7 linked regions of the Homo sapiens genome follow. The protein of the gene in region 7 interacts with the protein of the main gene of each other region in a biochemical or structural test. Each region holds a gene or a part of one and is shown on either strand. Other genes may lie near its edges.

Region 1 (3,500 bases), on a different chromosome or scaffold from region 7:
AGAAGTAGTTCTGTAATAGGCACAACACAAATAAATTTTGGTCACTTCTTTTTCAACTTTGTTCTAAGCAATCCTATCAAAAGACGACACATAAGATGTACCCAGCCTTCTTTCAAATATCAATGCGATTATCAGGTGAAGTTTATCATCCATGTATCAGGCTGAAGAGTTATTGGCTGAGCCTTTCCAGAGTCCTCCAGCTCTGGCTCTTCTGCTCATTTCCTCCAATCACCTGCCACCTCCCCTACTTTGTCTTTTTGCTATTTCTTTATCCCCTCTGTTTATTGCTTCCTAACATCCCCAAAGTCTGAAGTAAGGTGTTCTCCATGTATTTGGACTTCTTCCATGGACCCAATTATCACACGAAAATTGTAGTCTCCAAGCCAGGACTGGCTATGTAATTTGTGGGGCCACAAGAAAAATCAAAATGCGAGGCTCCTTATGAAAAAATTAGTAAGTATTTCAAGATGGCAATGGCAGAGCATTCAACCAAGCACGAACTCTTCTGAGAGCGGGTCCCTGTGCAACTGCATGGGTTGCACATCCGTGAAGTGAGCCCTGCCTGGCCCTCTAGGAACAAACTCTCATTCTGCTCCTGTACTGTTACCTGCAAGACAGACCCTTTAGTTCCACTTTCCACCACCTGAGAATGGATACTGAGTTAACCATCTGCCAAACGGGCAGGCATTCCCAACATCTCCACTAAGACTGCATTCTTCTCTTTCTTCCCATTTCTGTTACTACCACTCTGCATCAACCCTTACGATCTAATCCCTTCAACAGTCTTTGGTCTGGCTTGTTTCCAACAGCTCATGTTGCAAGTCATCCTAGACACAGAATATAATTCCTAAAATATATTTGTAATATTGTGCATCTTGGTCACACTGACAATACACTTTTCTAGGAAAATAGGATGGAGTCCATCGAATAGCAAATGTATAAAAGCCCATGTGTAAATATCCAGGGAAAGTACATTTTTGTGGTTGGTGAAGTGGTATTTGTGTTGTATTTTCAGAAGCACAGATTATAATGATTTGGTGGATATGCTAAAAAGAAGTATTTGCAATTAGCAAAAGCAGAATGCATCCAGAGACTCACCAGTATAATTCAAGTCAATTCTCTAGGTATATAAACTAATCATTTACTTAATCACCCCAAACTCTTATCTAGGCTTGCTCACGTATACCTGATAATACTGTTGAACACACTGAGGCCCTTTACTGTAAACAGAGTCCACAAATAATGAAATTACTTTTCCAAGGCTAGCAGACACTGCCCTGATTTTACCTTCTCTTATACATGGTCTCTAATAACAAAAGGGAGGAAATATTTTTGGTGGGAGGAAAGGGGGCAAGAAATGGATATAATTTCTCCTTTTCTCATGATCCATAGTGAACTAAACCTTTTCTAATTAAAAAAAAAATTACATCCCTCTTGGGGGAAGATTTACACACAAGAAATTCTATTGTCAAAGCATGTTTTTTTCTTATATTACCAAAAATAAAAACTAGAAGTAGTTTGATTTATTCTTACTACTTTATTTTATATGCTCAAACTAAAATCTGATTCTTACTTTGTTAAAATTGGGAGCAGAAATATGACTACTGAACACCATGGATAAAATATAAGGGTTTTGCACTAAAAATCACATACATGAAAATCTTTCTTAAGTCTAACTTTTCAAAAGCCTTTCTAAATTAATGTGTAATTCTGAAAAACTCCCTTAAGAAACTGTGGCTCTAAGATTAATAATATATTTAATCTGGCACATTAAACAAAAATAGCTGCTGTATAAACATGCAGGGGTGAAACTGCAGATAGGACTCGTCATTCATACAGTCAACAGCAATTCTGTTGTTAATTACCCACTGGGAAGGTATGTTATGTCAGCCTCCATAAACAGACATTCTACCCAGACACTTCTGTTTTTCCTTCAAATGCTACTAAAATACATCTTAATGTTCTCTTTTGCAGGTTGGCTTAACTTTTCTTTTCCAATTGATTTATGATGGTTGCTTCTCCACCATTCATGTATTCAACAACTCCCCAAAAGGACCCAGCATTTAAAATTAAGCTCTGTATCTGTAACAAATAGTAATGCATTCCCTAATTGGTATAATCATGGTAGCAGTTCCCCAGTGAAAGTTATTTTGAATCTGGAATTGAAAACATAAGGATGGCGGGAAAATAGAAAACATGTACTTACTACTAATCGCTGAACAATTTCCCTGATGTCTTCAGCACAGTTGTCTACCGAGGACAGGAGGACACATTCTCCTCTTTCGTAAAACACTTTGATACTCACTAATCCAGATGTCCACCCAATCACATCCCTGCAGGAACAGTTGAATACAACATTCTTGGAATCCTTTTCAATCAACATGATGAACTCATTGGAGATCCCGAGAAGACATTCAATGTCAGCAGACTGGCCGAAGTCCCGGGCTATCACGTGCCACATGATGGCCCCAATGCTAAACAAGTGGGCATCCTTCCTTGGCTTTACCTTCTCCTTTTTCTTCGCACCCAGCGTAATGAAGCTGAACTTCACAGAGGTATCCACGGTGGCGGTTGTGACAAAGTTCTCCGCCAGATCTTTCAAGTACTCCTGCCTCGTTCGAGTGGCCATTGCTCGAAACTTTTCTGATTTATGGGCTGCATTTTCTGCATTGATTACTTTGGCTAAAAGGAAGTCCCGGAACACGGCTGACTTTGGAAAAGTTACACCTTTGGGAATCGGTGGGCCAAATGGTGGCACATCTTTTGATCTGGAAACTCCAACACTGAGGAAGTAAAAACAGAAACAAAATGAGATGAGCTATGATACCATAATATGTATCTTTCCGAATTTGACATATATATACACACACACACACATATACATACACACACACACACACATATACATACACACATACACACACACTTTCAACTTAACTGGTTTATTCTGCAAGTTCTTGTTCTCCTAATTGCTGCATACCCAGGGTTTGTTGTTATTGTTGTTTAAGCAAAATGCTTTAAACTTAGTAGACAGGAGGTGTAATGGGCTGAATTATGTCCCTCTCAAAATCCACACGTTGACAAGATAACCCATAGTTCCTGGGAATGTGACGCAATCTGGAGAAAGGACCCTTAAGGAGGTGGCTAAGTGAAACCATTCGGGTGGGCCCTAATCCAACTGACTGGTGTCCTTATAAGAGGAGAAAATTTGGGCTTACAAAGAGACACCAGGGATGTATGCACACAGAAAGAAGACCATGTGAAGACACAAGGAGAAGACGGCCATCCATAAGCCAAGGGGAGAGGTCTCAGGAGAAACCAATCCTTGCTGACACCTTGATCTTAGACTTCCAGCCTCTAGAACTCTGAGAAAATAAAAGTCTGCCGTTTAAGCCACCTAGCCTGTGGCATTAGTACGGCAGTGCTACCAAACTAATACAGGGGGTAACACATCCACAGCATGTGGAATAAGCAGGCTGGCACTCTATAACTCTGTGGGG
Region 2 (3,500 bases), on a different chromosome or scaffold from region 7:
AATGATTACTGCTATCATCTAAAGAAAACAAGCAGAAAGGTCACCTTGTCCCAGAAACGCTCTTTCACTTTGCCTTTTAACGACTTGAACCTTTAGTGCTGATGGTTTCTAAGTGGCTAAATGCCACTATACATTTGAGTAAGTCCCTGAGATGAAGGATCCTATGTTTAGTAATTTTCTTTCCAGCATGTAATGTTCTATAATGGTTAATGAATTGGATGCTTCAAATATAAAGGTTACTTTAAGCATCAGGAATCAACCATAATTCCAATTTAGGGTGCCCAATTTGAGGGGAAAATCACAGCAGCCTGGGATAAATGAGAATAAACATTGGCATCAGTTTCTATGAAGATCTGGGTGTGACTTCATTCTGTGGACTAAGAGATCTCAGTGTGCATTAGTTACAGGGAAGCTTCGTGCTCTGTGATGGCATGCCAAGGAGCCTGGATACATTTTGACAACGTGAATGAAAGATAAATAACACAGAATAGTTTCACATTCAAGGTATATATGTATATTTAAATGAAGTAGCCATCTTTAGTTACTAAGTTCACACTCAGCATTCTCCGCGCTCAGCCAGGCGGGAGCCCTGGACTTTGGTGTGAAGTCAGAGCTCCTCTGGGATGCGCTGCCTCATTTATCTCCTGTCACTCTTCATTCCTGCAGCACACATCCTCCCTGAAGGATCATCCCGCTATTTAGGATAAGGAGGATTATAATGCATTCTTCCTCATCCCTTCACATGGTATACATTCAAATTTGTGAGTGATGTATTTGCTGTTGTCAGGAAGAGAAAAGCAATTCAGACACACAAGCTGTTTTATATTCTCCTTCGGACCATCAAGTTTGAGAGGAAGAACCATTAAAGTGCCTTAAAATATTACAAACATCCAAGTAACTGCACGACACATTATACTCATTTGTAAGCTAGGTGTTCTGTCTCCCGGAGCACAGGCTAGAAGTGTCATCACTTCTCAGGAACTTGAGCGCCACATCGGTGGAGTCCCTTCCTGGAAAGCGATGCAGCCCGTTCCTCACATTCAATGTAGACACAGACACAAAATCCTCTCCTCCCCTTCCCTTCCACTACAGCTCATATTTATCCACGGAGCGCATGACTCCGTGCGAACGATCATTTCCACACAGTAGCTCCGGTGAAAGATTCTCACCTTCTGAAGATTCCTCTTTTCCCCCGATAAACTGCTACATATTCCCCAATGCTATGTCTCAGACACCCGAGCAGGTGTAGGTGAGAAGAGTGTGAGTTGTTCACTTACCCCGGTTCTCTGAACTTCCATGAACGTGGCTCTTTGGAAGGACTTCTCCCACATGGCCAGCTCGCTGCCAAGCTCCACGTTGAAAACATGGCTCTTCCCATGGCCGGCCACGATGCTGAAGCAATAGGGCCTCTGGTCCTCAAAGTCAAAATCTTGAAGACCCAGATACAAGTTTGCTTGCAACCAGCAGTCCTCTGTGAGCCAGAACTGAAAAACAGAGCATGGATTGGAAACGTGCAGCGCTGGAAGGTCATTCCCATGCTGAGGGCCCTGGTGTGGGGAGAAGGCAGCGTTTGCGTGATCTGGGAAACGGTCTCCTGGGTGCAGACAAGGAGGCAAATTCAGAGCAATGAGCCCTCTCATGCACAGCTGGTGCGGAAGTGGTCCACAGACAAATATCTGTAAATAAATTTTGTCAAATGCTTAATTCTCTGTAAGTGCCTTTCCCTTAAAATACTGGTCACCACACACTTTCCTGTTTTACGGTGAAGAGAAAGATGAAGCTGGGTGTGGTGGCTCACGCCTGTAATCCCAGCACTTTGGGAGACTAAGGTGGGTGGATTGCTTGAGCCCAGGAGTCTGAGACCAGCCTGGGCAACATGGCAAGACCTTGTCTTCACAAAAATAAATGAATAAATAAAATACAACAAATTAGCCAGGTGTGGCAGCACACGCTTGTAGTTCTAGCTATTTGGGAGGCTGAGGTAGTAGAACGGCTTGAGCCCAGAAGCCCGAGGTTACAGAAAGCCAAGATCACACCACCAATGCACTCCAGCCTGGGTGACAGAGGGAAACCCTGTCTCAAGAAAAAAAAAAAAAAGATAAAGATGAAAGTCTTGAGACATTGATGCTTGTGTTTATCATAAAACCAGAAAACACTGAAAATACCACCACCACTCTAACTAAGCGTGCCCCCTGCGCCTCCGAGTCTCTATAGAATTACTGGCTCTTCCTCTCCTTGCGGGTTCATTGTCCTGAGATAAAGGACCGAGTGCCCAAAACGCCTCTGAAGCATGACAAGGCACCCGGCCACCCAGGAGCTCATTCTGCCAACCCAAAGGCCTGACAAAGGGAATGATGTAATGATGTTGTTCCATTTCTGGTTAATCGTTTAACCCAGAGATGTAAGTTACTTACAGCACGTCTATTAATCACTCGGCGATTCGGATGCTGCCAGCCTGTGCTGCATGGAGCAGCCTGGGGAGCTCCCCACTTCTTTCCCCCATCTGCAAGGTTGCACCCCACTTCGGGATTCATTTTATCAAGGGCAGAAGAGAAAGACTGGGGGTCCCAGTTGTCACAATTACTAGGTCAACAGCATGGAGGTGCATGGTGAACGCGCACTCAATACCTGGCTGGCACCTCTCTGTCTCTGTCTGTCTCTCTCTCTCTCTCTGTCTCCATTTCTATGTCTCTGTCTCTCTTTGTGTCTCTTTCTCTCTCTCCATTTCTGTCATTCTGTTTCTCTATTTTATGTCTGTTTCTCTGTCTCTCTCTATCCTTCTCTCTGTCTCTGTCTGTCTCTCTCTGGACCCACCTCAGTTCTCAGCTCACCCATTCATTTACTGGTCCACAGATCCACCCTGAAGAGCCCCCACCAGACACCTTCCTGGGACGCTGCACCCCAACATCAATTTTGCTGCACCAGTCTCTCCCCAGTGAAGGGAAACAAGGGGAGACACCTGGGCTGGGGTTTCCAAAGTCCTGAATGAGAATGTGGTGTTCACCCACAGCCCTGCATATGGCAGCAGAAAGGAAGGGGAGCTGCCCACCTGCTGGGTCTTCCCATCATGATTCTGAGATATCTCCATTCACTTGTGCCAACCAGCCAAGCTGGACAGTCCCCACTCACACTTACGCTCAAGGTCCAGTCCCAAAATCCACATGAACTCAGCAGTTGGCCAAATAGTTTTACTTGAAATATGCTGACACATGCACTCTAGGCACAGGTTTGAGGTAAAAGCTACGACTGGTGTGTCTCAGGTGGGCCTTCTGGACTCTCCGGGGGGATGCCCTGGCTCTCCTGGCCCCGCAGATGGCTCTGCAGGATGACCCTCTGATCATGGAGAGCATTGCACATTTATCCCTGTGCATCATCCAGACATCAAATGCCTTGTGGTGTGTGCACGTGAGAACATGTGTGTGTGTATGTGTGCACATGAGAATGTGTGTGCACACATGAACATGTGTATGTGTGGAAATGTATGTGAACATGAATGTGTG
Region 3 (2,921 bases), on a different chromosome or scaffold from region 7:
GGGCAGATGCACGGCGGCTGCACCCCGTGGGGAGGCCAGCATGCCTGCGGCAGCTGACCCTGGCAGTGCGAGGGCCCCCCATCCGGAGGCCGCAGCCTAGCACAGTCCCGGGCAGGACAGGGGAGAGCGTCGTGCTCAGGAGAGGAGAAGTGGGCAGTAGAGCTCCCTTTCCGTTCTTGAAGCAGACGTTTAGAGTCTGCTCCTTCCCAGTGTCCGCAAAGAAGGATTACAAGGCGCGCCACCCACACGGTTGGTCTCCCTGGGGCGGTCTGAGGCCTTGCTTGTATACCCAGCTCCTTTGGAGTCAGGGCTCGAGGCCAGGCCCCAAAGGGTCATTTGCTCACCGATCCCCAAAGGCTAAGAACTTGAGGTGCCCTGGGCCCCAGCGAGCCTGTTCCCAGCCCCCAGCACACTTTCCTGGCCCGTGTGTGTTTTGTAAGAAGGGGTGTAGGCCGGGCGCGGTGGCTCAGGCCTGTAATCCCAGCACTTTGGGAGGCCGAGGCGGGCGTATCACGAGGTCGGGAGATTGAGACCATCCTGGCTAACACGGTGAAACCCCGTCTCTGCTAAAAAATACAAAAAAATTCGCTGGGTGTGGTGGCGGGCACCTGTAATCCCAGCTACTGAGGAGGCTGAGGCAGGAGAATGACATGAACCCGGGGGGCAGAGCTTGCAGTGAGCCGAGATTGCACCACTGCACTCCAGCCTGGGCGACAGAGCAAGACTCCGTCTCAAAAAAAAAAAAAAAAGAAGGGGTGCGTGTGTCTTCCCCCATTGAGCTCCTCCTCAGTGAAGCAGAGTGCATCCCTCGCAGTTTCTGCCGAGGCCTGGCCACCCCCAGCCAGCCCCAGTGGATGGGCAAACTGTTGTCACCACTAGAAGTCCAATTTCTCACCCCTCGGGTGTCAGCTGGACTGGAAGCAAAACTAGCACTCAACTGTATTGACTCCTCTGGAGCCAGGGGTGGGGACCTGGAGTCTCAGTCTGCTGCATCTGGAAGGCATCATAAGTGTCCCCAGGCCTGGGCAGGCTGGCCTTCCTCCTTCACTCTAGGAGATGGGCATTTGAAGCAGAACTCTGGGGGGTTTGCCTCTGTCCTTTGCTTTCACCTGATTGTGGGAGGGGAGGTGGGAGGGCAGCGGCTCAGCCTCCTGTTTCTGTCCGCAGATCCACATGAAGACCATGCCCGCCGCCATGTTCAGGCTCCTCACGGGTCAGGAGACCCCGCTGTACATCTAGGCCACCCCAGCCTGGCCACGCAGCCAGGACACCGGGCAGGGCCGCCCGGGCCCAGAGGAGCTGGGAGCCGGGCCGCAGACTTGACCCCGACGCCACAGCCCAGCCACGGACGCTGGCTCCCCAAAGGGTGTGCCCTCACCACCCACTTGATTTTTTTCATTTTGCCAAAAAGGGGTATGTCTTTATCAAAGGAGAGTCACAGAACAAATGTTTGTTTGTAAAGCGTTCCAAGTATTTTGCCACGTTCTGGACTGTCTTCTCCCTGCACAAGCCAGGGTGTGTCTCGGTAGCTGTGCGTGGTGTGGAGTGTGTGTCTTTCCTCCCTGAAGCTGTGCGGAGCGAACTGGCGCCTCCGAGGGACGCGGCTCCCGGGGCAGGGCAGCCGTCACCCCTGCCTCCCGCCCCCTTGGCTGGGACGTCTGGGGTCCTGTGGGGCCCCCACAATGGTCCCAAACAGCTGCCTCTGCCACTGACTGCAGGGACACGGGCAGCCTGGCTCCCAGGACACGACTTGTAATGAAAGTTTGGGGACATGTGATTGATTGATTGATTGTAAATAAAGGATGATGGCCACAACATGAAAACTCCATATTTATTTAGATGCTATTATTACTGTTTGGACTTTTATTTTGGCAGGCTTTTTTCCAGACTCTAGGGTTTTCCAATGTGACTAATGACCACACCTGCCTCTCCCGTCGTCTCTTCTGGGCACCCTCCCACCCGGCTGCATACCCGGGCAGGGCTCCCACAGAGACAAGGAGGGCACAGGTGTCTGCCCCCTCTTTAAAATCGATCTACACACATCCACGCACATGCGACCCCGAGGAAACGAAACCCACTCTAGAAAACGCGACCTTGGCCGCACCTAAAGCAGCCAGCCGTGAGTGCAGACCCCTTGGCCAGCGTGGCGCAGTGGCCCTGAGCAGTAGTGGCATGTGTGTAGATCAAGTCGGATCTAGTCCAGCTCGGTTCATTAGCGATCCATGTAATCTGACGTCATCTTGTCTCGAAGTCTCTTTTTTTGGCCCAGGCCTTGAAGAATACACTGTGACTTAAGAAGCCTTACCACGCAGTAACTAAAGCTTTAGGATGACTGTATTCGAGGAGTGCCGTGTGTTGCATGCAGCTACCCGTAGGAAGACTTCGCGCATATCACTAATAAACCTGAAGTCGTGATGAAAAGCCGTGTGTGTGACTGGTCTGTTACCTCAGCGGCGGGTGCCCGCCTGTCCTTTCATTCACAGCTTGGATGCGGCTCTGCAAATTCACTATGCGGTGGCAGCCACAGCTGCTCTGTGCTCCTCCTGGATCCTGAACCTTGGAAGCTGTCACTAATGAGTTCGGTGGGTGGGTGCTCTGGGCACCAGGTGTCAGCTGGGCAACGCCCCGCTGCAACTGGAGGTGCCAGCAATGCTACCAGGTCACGGGGTCAGCGCCAGGTTCTTGACCCACTTGCCCCAGCAGGGAGACACGTCCGCAGAGCACTCACTAATGGAATGAGGGAGCCAGGGAGCCTTGGGCTTCTTCAGATTTCAACGTAAATGGCCCCTGGGAAAGGTGTGCATGCGTGTGCGTGTGTAAAAGCCGGACCGCCCATCCCAGCACCCTGTCTGCACCTGTGGGTCCTTTGCAGCCTGTCTAGAGTGACAATTCTGGCAGCTCTGCCAGCACTTACCTTTCTT
Region 4 (3,500 bases), about 18 Mb from region 7:
AGCCATGTGACCCTGGGCAAGTTACTCAGCCTCTCCTGACCTCAGCTTCTTCATCTGTGAACTGGGAGTTAGAACAAATGACCACAAAGTTCTGTTCCGTTTTCATCATCTGTAACTCTCTAAGACAGCGCTGTCCAGCAGGACTTCCTGCCGTGGTGAAATGTTCTCTGACTGCACTGTCTCATACGGGAGCCACTGGCCGCATATGGCTAGTGAGCATGTGAAGTATGGCTGGTTTCTTGTCTTAATTTATTTAAATTTAAGTAGCCACATATAACTAGTGGCTACCATACTAGACAGTGCAGCTCCACGATACAGAAGAAACTATATTCGATAGAGGAAAATGTAACAAGATCTCAGCGTGGCAGTTCATGGATGTCACAGGCAAATCATGCCAACTAGGAATAATATAAATTCTCCTGAACGCACAACAACAACAGTCCTGTTTCCTTTGAGGAGGCAAGAGTCCTATGAAGCAGAACCATCCGCAGAAGTGAGACAGAAGGAAAAAAGCTTTCAGAAGGGATGGGCTGTGCATCTGCATGAGCTTGCCTGGCAGAGCCTGGTTCAGTAATGAAACCACCAGAGGAGCTGGACACATTTCCCTGTCACCCTTCTAAAGCAGCGGGGAAGGGAGCAAAGTTTTCAGCAGTTTCCAGATCCACCCTGCCTCCTATCCCTTTTCCCCAAAACCATGTGACAGTGTCTAGGCCAGATGCGGTCAGGGGTGGTCAGTGGGCCCTGGGTGTACTCAAATCCCGCTGACAACCTATGCAGCTGAGGTTCCAGGGAAACATACAGCCCCCAGCTGCCAGGCCCCTACAGTCAGTAGTGTTTGCTCTAATAAAATATTAACCCAGTTATTAATATCTCCTCCTTCCCCATGATGAAGGAGTTTATCCGAGAACAATCCGGCACAAAGCTACCTGACCCAGAAGTCATCCAGTTCTGTGTCTCCATCTTCAAATGCTCCAGGCTCCTGCTCACCTGACGGCGTTGATCAGCAGCTCTTAGATGACTTCCACAGGGTGACCAAAGGGGGCTCCACCGAGGACGCCAGCCAGTACTACTGTGACAAGGTGAGCGAGCGCAGGCAGCCGGGTGATCCACACACCCAGGGCTTCCCGGCCTCTTGTGGGCAGCTGAGTAGCTCTAACTAAATGAAAATATCTTATCACCAACTGCTGGAGAGAGATGTGATGCAAATGACCACTTTCAAACCGTTTTCCAGAATGATAATGGTGACAGCTACTTAGTCTTGATCCGTATCACACCAGATGAAGATGGAAAATTTGGATTTAATCTTAAGGTATGTTGTGTATTTATAAAGGAAGTTTTGTGCTGGGAAGCAATCTTTCAATGAGTTTTTAATTTGCATTACAAATGTGCTGCATTCCTGAGCTACATAAGGAAGTTGGTTCAACCCTCAGAATTGAGAGTTGGGGGTTTTTTTTGTTTTTGTTTGGTTTGAGATATTTGGGGTTTTTTTTGTTTTTTTTTAAAAACTCACTTTATCGCCCAAACCTAGAGTGCAGTGGCACGATCGCAGCTCACTGCAGCGCTGACCTCCCCAGGCTCAGGTGATCCTCCCACCTCAGCTGGGACTATAGGGATGCACCACCATACCCAGCTAATTTTTTTCATATTTTTTGTAGAGATGGGGTTTCACCATGTTGTCCAAGCTGGTCTCAAACACCTGGCAATCTACTCACTTTGGCCTCCCAAAGTGCCGGGATTACAGGCGTGAACCACCGCACCCAGCCTAGAATTGAGAGGTTTTTTTTAATGTGGCCTTAACAGCTGCCGAAGGCCAAGTGCCTGCTCTGTGCCTGGCATTGGCTATCCACTAGATTCATAGCACCTTCTTAAGTTCTGATAACAAGTGGTAAGGTCAGTATTTTTAAACCCATTTTGCAAATGAATACTGAGGTTCCCAGAAATGAGGGCACACAGTTGGCAAACAGATCTACCCACTTCAGGAATGCTATTAAGAGAACCCCTCAGCATTGCTAAAGCTGATAAGAGAAAAACAATTCAAGTTCAACCTGCAGGGCCACCACTCTCCTCCAGGCACCTTTAAGCAGGATCTGCAAACTAAACCCACAGGCCAAATCCCATCTGTTTCTGTAACTAGTTTTTTTGGTAACAGCCACAGCCATTTGTTTACTGGTGGGTTAATGACTGCAGAGTTGAGCAGTTGAATCAGAGCCCTCACTCCCACAAAGCCTCTCTGGCCCTTTACAGAAAACGTTTACTCATCCCTACTCTAGGACAAAGTGAGGGCAGGTGGTCGCCTACCCCCCAGCTGCCATCATGCACAGCCTCATCTGCCCCAGCAGCTGTGTTGAGGACCAGCGCTCACAGGCCAGATGCGCTCACAGGGTGTGCCCCCTTCCCAGGCCTCGCTCGCCTCTGCTGAAAGCCCCTATATATATATATATAAAGCCCATATATATATATATTAAAGCCCATATATATATATAAAGCCCATATATATATATATATATATATTTTTTTTTTTTTTTTAATTATTATAAGTTCTAGGGTACATGTGCACAACGTGCAGGTTTGTTCTAGCAGCACTCGAAGACATGCTGTGGAGTCCCTCTCTGGGGGCATCTGCGTTTTTAAGGAGGAGCTTCTCTCTGAGTGTATCTGTTAGTTCATGGACTGTGGGGATGGCAGAGGGAGGCTTCTGAACAGAGTCCTGGTCAGCCCGCTGGATCCAGAGGGGTCAGGAATTTGTTCCATATTTCTGAAATGACGTGTGATTCGAATCAGTCATAGTGAAGTTTGAAGCCTCCCTGTACCAAAGACTCACATTTATTGGTACCTCCATGTTGTTGATGCTGTGAGCTACTCGTTTTTTTGTTTGTTTGTTTGTTTAACTTAAAAAACTTTGTTTTGTTTTTATTTTAAAATGTTTACAGGGAGGAGTGGATCAAAAGATGCCTCTTGTGGTATCAAGGATAAACCCAGAGTCACCTGTAAGTAAATACATTCCATGTTATTCCTCGTGTTTGTTTGTTTCCCCCTAATTCTAACAGGTTTCTGTTTCTGAGTCCTGTTTCTTTTTTTGCCAGAGCAAAGAATGTGCTTAGATATACATCACCATGTTTTCTATAACCTTGCGGCTCAGTGTGGTCTTTGAAGCCATAGCACCCATGTTACCTGGGACCTCATTAGAAATGCAGCATCTCTGGCCTCAGCTTAGGCCTGCTGAACCGGAATCTGCATTTTTAACAAGAGCCTTGAGTGGTTAGTGTGCATTCAATTTTGAGAAGTCCTTTTCAAGAGAAGGAAACTTAGGCAGTCTGCTGTTCTGCTCACTCTAAGTGGGCACGTGGGCCCTGTGCCTCTTCTCACCATCTTTCCACCAGTGCCCCTTTTGTCATCTGTGTAGGCCTCCTAAGAAGAGCATTTGCTTTGTTTTTCTTTCAAATTTATTTTATTGTTTTTAGGCCAGGCATAGTGGCTCACACCTGTAATCCCAGCACTTT
Region 5 (3,500 bases), on a different chromosome or scaffold from region 7:
CCCTCTGCCCTGAACACAATTCCCTCTCCTCTTCATCTAATAAGGTTGTAGAACAGACCTTAGCTCCTCCTGACTTCCCAAACTCTAGTATCTTTCACCTGCTGTGCAAGCACTAGCCTAGTGTCCAACACATGGTAGATACACAATCAATATTTACATGGTAAGCGGCCAGAGGTACGACATTACTGGTATTAGATAGACACAGACTCTTTCTCCATCTGGTCTCTGGCCTGAATCTAGGATAGGGTCTTAACTTCTTTTGGGCCATGGACCACATTTTCTCCATTCATTCTCTCGACTGACAAAATAATAATCAATCAACTCCTACTATATGCCAGGTACTCTTCCAAGCCCTGGGCATGCAGCACTGAATAAGACAGCAAGTTTCTTCTGGAATTTACATTCTAGTGGAGGGGATAGAAGATAAACAACTAATACACATAATCAAGCCAGATGATTTCAAAGAGCAAACATGACCTGAAACCTGACACCTGAAAGGTGAGTGATTCTTGCCTTAAGTATCGGGTAGGAAGTAGCCTGGGCAGAGAGAACAGTAAGTGCCAAGGCCCAGGTACGGTTACAGCATAGTGGGGTCCAGGAGAAAGATATGAGATGAGAATAAAGGGAGTTCTGCATGAGACTTTGGAGGTCTAAGCCCTCTGAGGCCCATTTACAGACTCTGCTCAAGAACCCCTGCTGAAGGGTTCTCAAAATACTTACTCTTTCACTTGCACAGTGGTGGCGTAGTTGGAGCAGGCACTCTCCACGGACACGGAGAAGCCCCGCCTGCCTTCAGTGGTGGCCGGCATGGAGATGAGCGTGACAGAGTAGGGCAGCTGCTCCTGAACAGACTCTGTGGAGAGTCTCTCAAACATGGGTGCCAGCACCACCTCATTGTGGCACTTCCCACTGGGGAGAGGGCACAGGGGGGAATAAGATGCTAGAGTCCCACACAGAAGCCCCCCAGCAACCACTGCACCATGTGGCTTTAAGCAACAGTACCCATAGTCTCACTACCACCCTCTTTGTCATGATTCTAGCTGGCTGCTCAGAATGAGGAGCCTGGGTTCTCAGGGTGGGCTGGGACTGGGGGTGCTGAGCTAGATCTGCAGCAAGTGGTATATTTGGAAAAACACTGGCCTGGGTTGGGGTGAGATGGTCTGGGTTCTCTTCACTCTACCTTTGACTCACAATGAGAACCTTGCCCTTGTACTATTCTATTCCATGGGCCCCAGGCTGACTTCTTTTATCAACCAAGGTGGTTGGACAGGGTGAGCTCTAAGGGGTCTTTGACTTTAATGTTCTGGGATCGTCCTTGAAGAGTGCCTCCCACTGGGAGGATTGCAGGGCAGAGTGAAGACATTTTCAAGGTTGGTAAGGAAAAAGGGTAGAGACATGTGTAAATCATTCTGCTTACAAGTTAAAGAGCTGGTTAAGAGCACTGCTGTGGTAAGAATCCAATGCTCTGACTACCCTAACACTCCTTCTGCCCAACTCACCCTGCCACTGTCCCTCCCCGCCAGCCACTCTTATATGGGAGAGGATAGACAAAGGACCACTATCTTACCAGTAGAGGGTGGCATGCTGCACCAGTGCATATGCATCCCCATCCTCAATGATCACCTTGCAGCTCATACAGGCAAAGCACTCTGGGTGGTACTTGAACTCCCCAGCCACCTGTGAGCAGGTGGGGAGAAGGGTGTACAAAGGGAGGAAGGAAGTGAGTTATCACTGTTGCTGGAGTGAGGACAGGGGTGGGTGAATGACCTCCAAGCAAGGCCCCCGTCAAAATCCACTCTTTCACTCTCTGCCCTAGAGCTTCCAAAGGAAGTGTCAGATTGGTACCTCCTGTCATTTCTGAGACTGCACAAAACTGTTTTGGTCTCAGTTATGAGAAGAAATCCCCAGAAGTAATCATCCCCACTAAAAAAGATCAGTTCTTCCAATACAGGGTTGGCAAGTCTGTCACTATGCTTAAAGTCGTTTGTCCAGAGCAGGTATAGGAGGTAGCCCCTCTCTCTGCCAGCCTATTCCAGAGTCTCCTTTTCTGATTCCCTAAAGACAACCTAAGTATATCCTCCTCTCAGCCTGTAACACTCTCCTTGGAGGTCCTTATCCAACTATATTGTGTCTCCTCTCTGCCTGCCTCTCCTCCCACTCCCAACGTTCAACTATTAAGTCTTTGAGGGAAGGATCTTACCTTTCACTTAGTAGGTGCTCAATTGATACCTGCTAGTTGAATGAATGAATAAATAAAGGGAGATGCCCTGGCTGATGGAAAGACTAAAAGATTAACAGGCCACAGGGAACTGGAAGCACTGTCAATGGACTCTGAAGACCAAGAGGGGCAGATATGAAGGGATTCACTCACCATAAAAGGCCCTGTCATCAGCAGGGAGCACCCATGACAGAACTCCCCAAACTTCCCCCAGTAGTCCTTGGGGCAGTAGAGCTTCCCATCCTTCTCATAGTACCAGTTGGTGAGGGAATCCTGGCATTCTGAACACCTGAAAGGCAAGACAAGAACTGAAATTCTCCTGGATCCCTGGAACCAGGCCACATAAGCTGTCCCTGGTTCCTAGGTATGACAACAAAATGGACAGTCCTCTTTGATCCAAAGCCAAGATGGGGCAAAGTTACAGCCTTGTGCTATCTCCCCAAGGGAAGCTGGTTCAGACTGAACAAGGCCCCAGAAACCAGCTCTGTGTTGCCTGCCTCAGTGGACAGACTAGTGTTTCATAACCTCTTTGGGTCTTGGGGCCCTCTGAGAATTTGATAAAAGCCAAGAAGCCTCCCCTAGAAAAATGAATATATAAAGAAGATGTGTATATAATTTAGGTGGGGGACAGGGTGTATATATAAAGGATTCTCTGAAACCTATTTATGGCACCAGTTAAGGATCTCTGGTCTTGACAGATACTTCAATGAACAAAAGCAGTTTAATCATCTCCACTCTTCAAAACTGACCCATCACCAACAGCGTTACCAATGTAATGTTCTTGCCAAAAATACGTTAAGTATAAAAAAACTAATCAGGCAAATCTAGAATGTGGGTTATTCTATAAGAATAACCGGTCTTGACTCTTCTAAAAAGTCATGGGGAGAAGAAAAGGCACAGATTTTAAAAACCCTAGAGACACAGCAACCAAATACAATGCCTCAAACTTGGATTCAAATTTAGATTAAAAAAGGAAACAGCCATGAACATTTTTTGGAACAACTGAGGAAATATGGATTTGGACTATAATATTATATTGTAAAATTGCCGTGAATTTTCTTAGATGTAATGATATCTGACTTATATAGGAGAATTCTTAGCAGAAACATATTGAACTGTTCAAGGGTAAAATCAAGATGCCTTTAAGTTACTCTGAAATAGTTCAGCAAAAATAAATAAATAAAAGTATACAGATAGAGGGAGAGAGATATATACAAAGTGGCATAACATTAACAAATCATGAATCTATGTGAAAGGTATGTAGGTGTTCTTTGAACTACAT
Region 6 (3,500 bases), on a different chromosome or scaffold from region 7:
TTTTAAAGTATTCGGTAGTAAGAATAAACAATAAAGAACAATTTTAGAAGTATGAATAAAGCAATTTCATAAGGAGAAATTATGAGCACAGCAATATTAATAGTAGCAAAATCTTTGTTATTAGTATCCGAACATCTACACTTACCTTAAAAAGTTAAGCACAAGATCATCCTTGTGCTTTTAAAGCTTCTCCACACTGCTGATTTCTAGCAGTAATTCTAAATTATCGTTAGGATTATTAATTTTTCTCAGTAATAAATCAAGCTTTTCTTAAATCCAGCATTCAACATAGACAAAGTTCATGATCAAGCTTCAGCACTGTAAATGAGGGAAATGTTGATCTATAAACTAATGCACCCAAAGGAAAATTTCTCTCTTTGCATGGCTAATATGGACTTGACATTTATTTTCAAGTAATTGCTTTCTTTTTCTTGCTGAATGACAGCTTTATGAGCGAAGATTTCAAAATTATAAGTTGGTACATGCCTGAAATATGGGCAAGAAATAATTACCTGATTATCCTCCCATTTTAAAAAAGCTGGATAAGTGTTCAGATATACATTACACTTACACTATCTATTAAACTATTTTTTAAATAAATACTTGTTGCATTTTAACAAATTATAAATGCCCTTTCTGTAATATACTTCGACTTAGATGAATTGTTATTCTTTATCAGGCAAAAGACATTATTATAGTAGTTAGCAGTTTTCAAATGACTTTGAACTTCATTCTCTGACCTAAATACCTACAATATTCTCCATTAAGCTTGTGTTATGTACACTGTAATGAACCCTTTAATGATAACACTTACACACTCACACACATACACAGACACACACCCAAACACACATACACGCTCACACATACCAAGGCACTGGAGGGGTTAACACATTAGCATTTTGCTGTTAAAATGTGCTTAATGTACAAACTAGGATTTTATGAATAAATCTCTTACATGTAAACCTAAATTATATGAGAGATAGAAATTTTTAAGTGTTTTTGTTCATTTCAAAGCTTTCTCATTCAAGTAGTCCAAGTTATAACAAATGCCAATGACTAATCACCACATTGTAAAGAAAACATTAAATACTAATTGTTAAACTGATGAAAACGAGAATAGTATTTTGTTACTTTTTGGCTGTTGTACTAATCATGTTAAATAAAAATCACGGCTTATGTTTTTTATCAATAGTATCAAAAATATTCATAATGGTATTGTCATAAGTTTTTAATCAAGCTACATTTTACAACGTAATTTAAAGTATATTAAATGTATGTACACAAAACATTCTTCTAATATAATTAATGGTCAGCATTTCATTATATTTATATATATATACACCCATGTATGCATATAAATACATATGTAGGTGTGTGTGTATTCTCTGAGGAGATATATATTTATACATATCTCATTGTGCACCTTTTCCTTCGTAACACACATGAGCATAGGCTAAATTTTCATAATAACACTAAAAAGATAGCTAATGGTTAATAGGTTTTTTAAATTCTAAAATGGAACGTTTACAAAATTTCACAATTTTTAAATCATTCTATTACAGGTAGGTAAACTGTTGAAACGTTTTTCTTTTGCTTATGGATAATTAGCCCATGTCATATTGCCTTCCAGATTGTGGACACATTCATGTAACCCCAATATGGGGCACACTGAGATTCAGCTCTGGTTGGAAGCAGAAGTTCCATAATGAACCACTTGCCACAGCTGAAAATTCTAAGTTCGATGTATCCCACTGCTTTTTCTCCATAAGTTCAGAAGTGGCCTACTACTGAAGGCTGCTTTTGGTGGGTTTCAATTTTACAATGACTGTTGTATTTGATCAATATAGTGTGCAATAATTCTAAAGTTCTATCCTAATTACAAATGTGTACTTAGTTTTACGGTCAAAATACATTACACTGAAACTGTTTATTGTAATTTGCCACAGTTCTTTGGGTAAGGTATGTTAGATTCAGTTTAACATTTTCCCAGGGACAATTATAAACCCTCACTTTTTCTTTTCAATTTGATGTATTTACAAATTAATCTGATGCAAAATAAATTAATGAATCATGAGTATAAAAACAACTTGATATTAATTTTTTAAATTAGTAAATCTGTCCTTTATAGAAATCACTTTGTTTCCTTCTTGAGTGATTTTTAAAAACATATTTGAAAAAAAAAATTGAATCAATTTATTAGATACTTGGTTATCTCCACAAGGACACACATAATACTTGGTTTACCTGGGAGCATGTGTATCAATAAAAATTTTTTTTTTTTTTTACATACACAGCTGACTTTTTAAAATATCTCAAAAAAGCTGTACTGAAGGACAGAGACTGTGTTCCATGTTATACAACTAGTTGAATAATACCTGGAATCTGAGTAAATTGCACACCTCTAAGGCTTTCAAATTTCCCAGCCTTTCACATTTACATTCTTAGGACAAAATACCTAAAACAACCTGCATAGTTGGCATTACTTAATCACTTTCCATGACAAGGGAGGTTAAAGAATTTTAACTTTTATCTTTAAATATCACCTTTGTTTCTCATAAAATAGTACTAAAATGAAAAAATGTCATTTAATTAACATCTATAATAGCTTTGGGACTGTTTTCGGGGGACATTTTAGTTCATGATTAACTAGTAGACTTCGGATTACAAAGAATTGTTTCTCACACCATATTTGTTTATATTATTTTCTCTACAAAAGGTTTTGGGTTCACTGAAAATTTATGAAACTTTAATTTGATAATAAATCTTATTAGGTAAAATACAAATCTCTTTCAAACCAAGGAAGAAATGAGAGGTTCATGAAATTTTCCATCACTCATAATTAAATTAATACACTGTTGGCATATTTGATTGACTTTGGCAGCTAATAAGACATTTCAATAACAGTGATCCAAGGGAGAATAGTCCATTTCACATTGTATCTATCATGGGTCAATGTAATTATCCTTTGGAAGTTCTTCGGAATATTTACAATAAGATAAAAACAATTGGAATGCCAGTGTCAAATCATGGGATGAGAACACAAGGGCAAATTTACATCAGCAAATTAAAGTGCATCCTTCTTTGATGAGATTTTTTTGCATGCTCCTTGCTGATTTATGGTTTTTAACTCTTTTATGTCCCTCATAATACAAGATAGGGCATTTGTTTTCCTATGACTCTGCCCAACATGTACTAGTCATACAAAATAATCTAAAATACAGAAGTAATCATTTAATAAGTATTTTTATTCATAGGTAGCTTACTATTTTTATGTTATTTACATACTTCTTCAAATAATTTATTCTTTTGTCTCCACTTTTGGTGAAAGCAATACACTTACTGGTACAAAGCAACTGAGTGAGAACAAGCTGTTCTGTTCATGTAGTATATTTCACAGATGTCATCCAGAATAGAAGTGTTTTTGAGGTTCCACATGACCTTCTTTTTCTGCCGAAATTTTGATTTGCCTCCACTGTCGACTTGGTGATGTTATGGTT
Region 7 (3,500 bases):
CTCACCTCTCGGGGGATGCGGCCATGGTACCAGGCATGGCTGCGGAGATCCGTGCTGCTGAGTTTGAGCTCCTCCTCCAATTCCTTGTGGAGTTTCTCTGGCGATGAGTCCAGGATGTACTTCTCCTTGGAGAACTGGGTAGAAAACAGCAAGAGTTGGCATCCAACTTAAAGTCTCCTTCTTCTTTCCCTCCCAACTTCATTCTACCATGGATGAACTCCTCCTATCCTGGGACTCTGGGAACACTAAGGCACAGGTGCCAGACCCTTTCCCATGGGTCCCAGAAAGAGTAAAGAAATCTCAATTCCTTCCACAAAACAATGCCAGCTGCATTCCAGGCCCTGTGCTATATGCCAGGGGTGGATGCAGTGATATATAAACCAAGCCCGGCCCTCAAGGCAGTGCCTAGTCTGAGGAGAGGCAAAAGCAACAGGAGCCTCTGAGTAGAGTGCGGTCAGCACCACAGCGCTGGACAGCGGCAAAGAGCCGGGTGGCTTTTACAAGCGGGATTAAGCCTGGGCACGACAGAGGGGTCTCGGAAGCCTTCCTGGAGGAGATGGCAGTAAGAAAACACTCATTATATACCAAGGGCACCAAACTGTTCTTGAAGTGTTGGAGGGGGATTTCTACAGGTGAATCTTGGAGGTAAGGCAGCAGGTAACTGCAGGAAAAGCTATGAACAAAACCACAGAACTGGTTGGACAAGGATACGTTCTGGGATGGTGCATTCTACAATGCAAGGGTGGGGAAGGGACTATAAACAGGGACACGGGGACCCCAAACAGACATCTGCATTGCCCCTTACAATTTCCAAGGCCATTTCTCCCTTGAAATCCTCAGCAATCCTCACCCAGATGGGGAGACCATGGCCCAGCAGGGAAGCCCAAGGCCACTGAGGGAGATAATGTCCAGTACTCCACCCTCCCACCTGGCCCAGAAACTCCTGGTTTCTTGATTACTGTGGCCTGAAGTTGGAGGCTGATGGATCCCAGGGGCCCTAAGGGAAGAGGAAAGGAAGCCCTTAATGCCAGGTGTACGCCCACCAGAGCCCAGCCCAATCCTGGCTGTGCCTTGTGAGCTCTCTGGGCCTCAATTTCTTCCTCATTAAAATGGGTACAGTGACAGAACCTGCCTCACCTCACTGCGAAGATGAAAAGAGACAGCACTCCAGAGTACTACTAGCACATGGACATCCTCATCACTGCGAGGACATGGGATGGTTCTTCCTCTCCTTCCCCCACCTCCAGGCCCCAAAGATGGCTACTCCAAGACAGACAGACCCCAGCGCTGGCCAGAAGGCAGGACAGATGAGGGAGGGCAGTAAAGGGCCTTCATCCCAGGTGAGTCTCTCCCTGGGGCCCCTCGCTCCTGAGAGTCCGAAGGTCCTCCAGTCCACTCCCTGCCTCCTCAGACTATCCACAGATCTCGCCTCCTAATTCTGTGGCTACATCCCTCACCCCTCTGCTCCCATACTGCCTGGGTTTAGCCTAGTCTGCATTGCTCCCAAGACACCATGATTCCCAGTGTCAGAGATATCTAGAATCTCTGATTCCATTCAACATTGACTAGGTCCCTATCCTGGTCCTGTGCCAGGGCTGAGGACCCAAGGTGGCCTCTGCCCTGGGGGAGGCCTTGCAGACACTGACAATCAATTCCAGGTTTCCTGAATGTCCCGAGATGCACAGAGATGGTGCACCACCAAACTAGTCAGGGGGCAGAGTCAGGAATCACTTCCCTGAAAAGGTGGTGTTTCTGCTGAGGTCTGAAGGACTGGGTGAGCCAAGCAAAAGCACCAGGGTGGAGAGGGCAGGTGGACAGGTGGACAGGGAAGAGCTTCTGGGGAGAGAGCGGCAAAGTCAGGGTCCTACGGGCAGAGCCAAGGGGAGGGAGGGGAGATGAATAAGAAGCTTCCAAGGGGCTGTGGGGGCAGGGGCAGGTGTGGCACGGCTGCCTCAGGGAGCTGGGGTTTATCTGGAGGCCACAGCAGAGCCATGGAGGGGTTTGGAAGTGTTGGGGCAGGTTTAGTCCACTTATGGAGAGCAGCCTAGGGTTTTCCAGGCAGTGGCAGGGCAGATAAGGCGTGGGCAGAAGGAGTGGGGGAAAGGGAGTTTAGATGGCCATTGATTCATGTGGGGGAGCAGGGCGGAGGGGTCAGAGAGGACTCCTGGCCGAGATCCTAGAAGGATGATTGGGACATGCTCTGAGTGGGCAAGGCTGGGGCAGGAGCAGCTTGGTGGTGGACCCATGAAAATTTGGACCTTGAGGAGCCTGCAGGGCTCTGGGGACAGATGGTGGGAGTGGGCGGTTTGCACAGGTGCTCAGGAGAAAGGCGGGGCCTGGGAGTGGGAATTCTGCACATCCTCCGGCCGTGGTAGAAACCGATGCCCCCGAAGGGCAGAGAGGCCCAGGGCTGGGCTAGGATCTGGGCCTTCTCAGACACCTACACTTCTCCAAGGGGTCCCCTACTTCTGGGGGTCCCTGGTCTCTCTCCCTCTCACTCTGCGGTGCTCACACCAGGCTAGTCCTCTTTCCTCATATCACACCAAACCCTGGAAAGGGGAGAGTGGGCGTCACAGGGAAAAAGGGAACCAAGACCTCAGCCTTCTGGCGTCCTCCTTGACAAAGGGCATGCGATTGAGACCTTCCCCCAGTTCCACAGCTGGAGCTAGAGGGACGTGGGCAAAGGAGGGAGGAGGCTGGATGTTGAAGAACCGCCCCAAGGCTGCCACTGTGTGACCTTGAGCCAGTCACTTCCCCTCTCTGGGCCTGGGCAGCCTCATCCGTTAAAGGGGCTGGGAGACTGGGCTCCCCTTTTCCAGCTTAATCACTGGTCACGGAGAGTTTGGGGGGACCAACTTGGTCCTCCCACACACCTGAGGGTGAGGAATCCTAGGGTCCCTGTGCCTTGATCTCACCTCGACCTGGGAGCCCCCAGTTCCCTAGAGTTGGGGGTGCTGGGGTGCGAATGCAGCATCCCTGCGCTCGGCGCCCTGCTATTGGCCAGAGATGATCTCACCGCCTCCCGGCCTGCGCGCGCCTGATTGGCCGGTGCGGGGATGCTGCGCTCCGCCGCCGGCGGGGCAGTCCTTCAGGCGGGCTCCGCGAGCGTGTGTGAGCCTGGGGGAGCGAAGAGCCGACGCGCCTGGCATCTCCCAGGGGGCTCAGGGGGCAGGAGCGCGGAGACCCCCGGACAGGGTCTTAACCCCTTCCCGCCAGCCCGAGCCCAGCATCCCCTCCAGCTCCCCTCGGCGTCCCAACCCCAAGCAAAGCCATCCCCAAAGGATGCTCCGCAGAGAGGCGGGGTCCGGGTCCTCCCCTCCACCCCCTTCCGTTTAACCCTCTCACCGCCGCGGCGCCGTCCTGCACTGCCCGGCCAGCTGGGCTGGGAGAGACCCGCGCCCCAGGCATGTCCAAGCCCACCTAGAGGGCGGGAGGGTGGCGGGCGCTCTGGCCCCAACCCTGGCATCCGAAGCATCCCCCGCGTTTCCTGCTCCTCACTC

Evidence for each region.
Region 1: the proteins of SH2D3C (region 7) and SIPA1L2 interact in a test that uses a peptide from one of them, tested with the Homo sapiens proteins (one large-scale study listed by IntAct).
Region 2: the proteins of SH2D3C (region 7) and SNTG2 interact in a test that uses a peptide from one of them, tested with the Homo sapiens proteins (one large-scale study listed by IntAct).
Region 3: the proteins of SH2D3C (region 7) and APBA2 interact in a test that uses a peptide from one of them, tested with the Homo sapiens proteins (one large-scale study listed by IntAct).
Region 4: the proteins of SH2D3C (region 7) and PTPN3 interact in a test that uses a peptide from one of them, tested with the Homo sapiens proteins (one large-scale study listed by IntAct).
Region 5: the proteins of SH2D3C (region 7) and LIMK2 interact in a test that uses a peptide from one of them, tested with the Homo sapiens proteins (one large-scale study listed by IntAct).
Region 6: the proteins of SH2D3C (region 7) and SNTG1 interact in a test that uses a peptide from one of them, tested with the Homo sapiens proteins (one large-scale study listed by IntAct).

Annotation. Positions count from the first base shown.
Region 1 is NC_000001.11:232,462,634-232,466,133, forward strand, and holds part of SIPA1L2 (signal-induced proliferation-associated 1-like protein 2), read right to left. Parts: intron 2,784-3,500; coding exon 2,207-2,783; intron 1-2,206.
Region 2 is NC_000002.12:1,265,349-1,268,848, reverse strand, and holds part of SNTG2 (gamma-2-syntrophin), read right to left. Parts: intron 1,485-3,500; coding exon 1,278-1,484; intron 778-1,277; coding exon of another isoform or gene 754-777; exon of another isoform or gene 1-753. UniProt on the Homo sapiens protein: Adapter protein that binds to and probably organizes the subcellular localization of a variety of proteins. May link various receptors to the actin cytoskeleton and the dystrophin glycoprotein complex.
Region 3 is NC_000015.10:29,115,895-29,118,815, forward strand, and holds the end of APBA2 (amyloid-beta A4 precursor protein-binding family A member 2), read left to right. Parts: intron 1-1,167; coding exon 1,168-1,239; 3' UTR 1,240-2,421; downstream 2,422-2,921. UniProt on the Homo sapiens protein: Putative function in synaptic vesicle exocytosis by binding to STXBP1, an essential component of the synaptic vesicle exocytotic machinery. May modulate processing of the amyloid-beta precursor protein (APP) and hence formation of APP-beta.
Region 4 is NC_000009.12:109,407,808-109,411,307, reverse strand, and holds part of PTPN3 (tyrosine-protein phosphatase non-receptor type 3), read left to right. Parts: intron 1-892; coding exon 893-1,079; intron 1,080-1,231; coding exon 1,232-1,309; intron 1,310-2,930; coding exon 2,931-2,987; intron 2,988-3,500.
Region 5 is NC_000022.11:31,257,298-31,260,797, reverse strand, and holds part of LIMK2 (LIM domain kinase 2), read right to left. Parts: intron 2,508-3,500; coding exon 2,372-2,507; intron 1,678-2,371; coding exon 1,568-1,677; intron 910-1,567; coding exon 721-909; intron 1-720. UniProt on the Homo sapiens protein: Serine/threonine-protein kinase that plays an essential role in the regulation of actin filament dynamics. Acts downstream of several Rho family GTPase signal transduction pathways.
Region 6 is NC_000008.11:50,792,907-50,796,406, reverse strand, and holds part of SNTG1 (gamma-1-syntrophin), read right to left. Parts: 3' UTR 1-3,500. UniProt on the Homo sapiens protein: Adapter protein that binds to and probably organizes the subcellular localization of a variety of proteins. May link various receptors to the actin cytoskeleton and the dystrophin glycoprotein complex.
Region 7 is NC_000009.12:127,751,167-127,754,666, forward strand, and holds part of SH2D3C (SH2 domain-containing protein 3C), read right to left. Parts: intron 135-3,500; coding exon 6-134; intron 1-5. UniProt on the Homo sapiens protein: Acts as an adapter protein that mediates cell signaling pathways involved in cellular functions such as cell adhesion and migration, tissue organization, and the regulation of the immune response.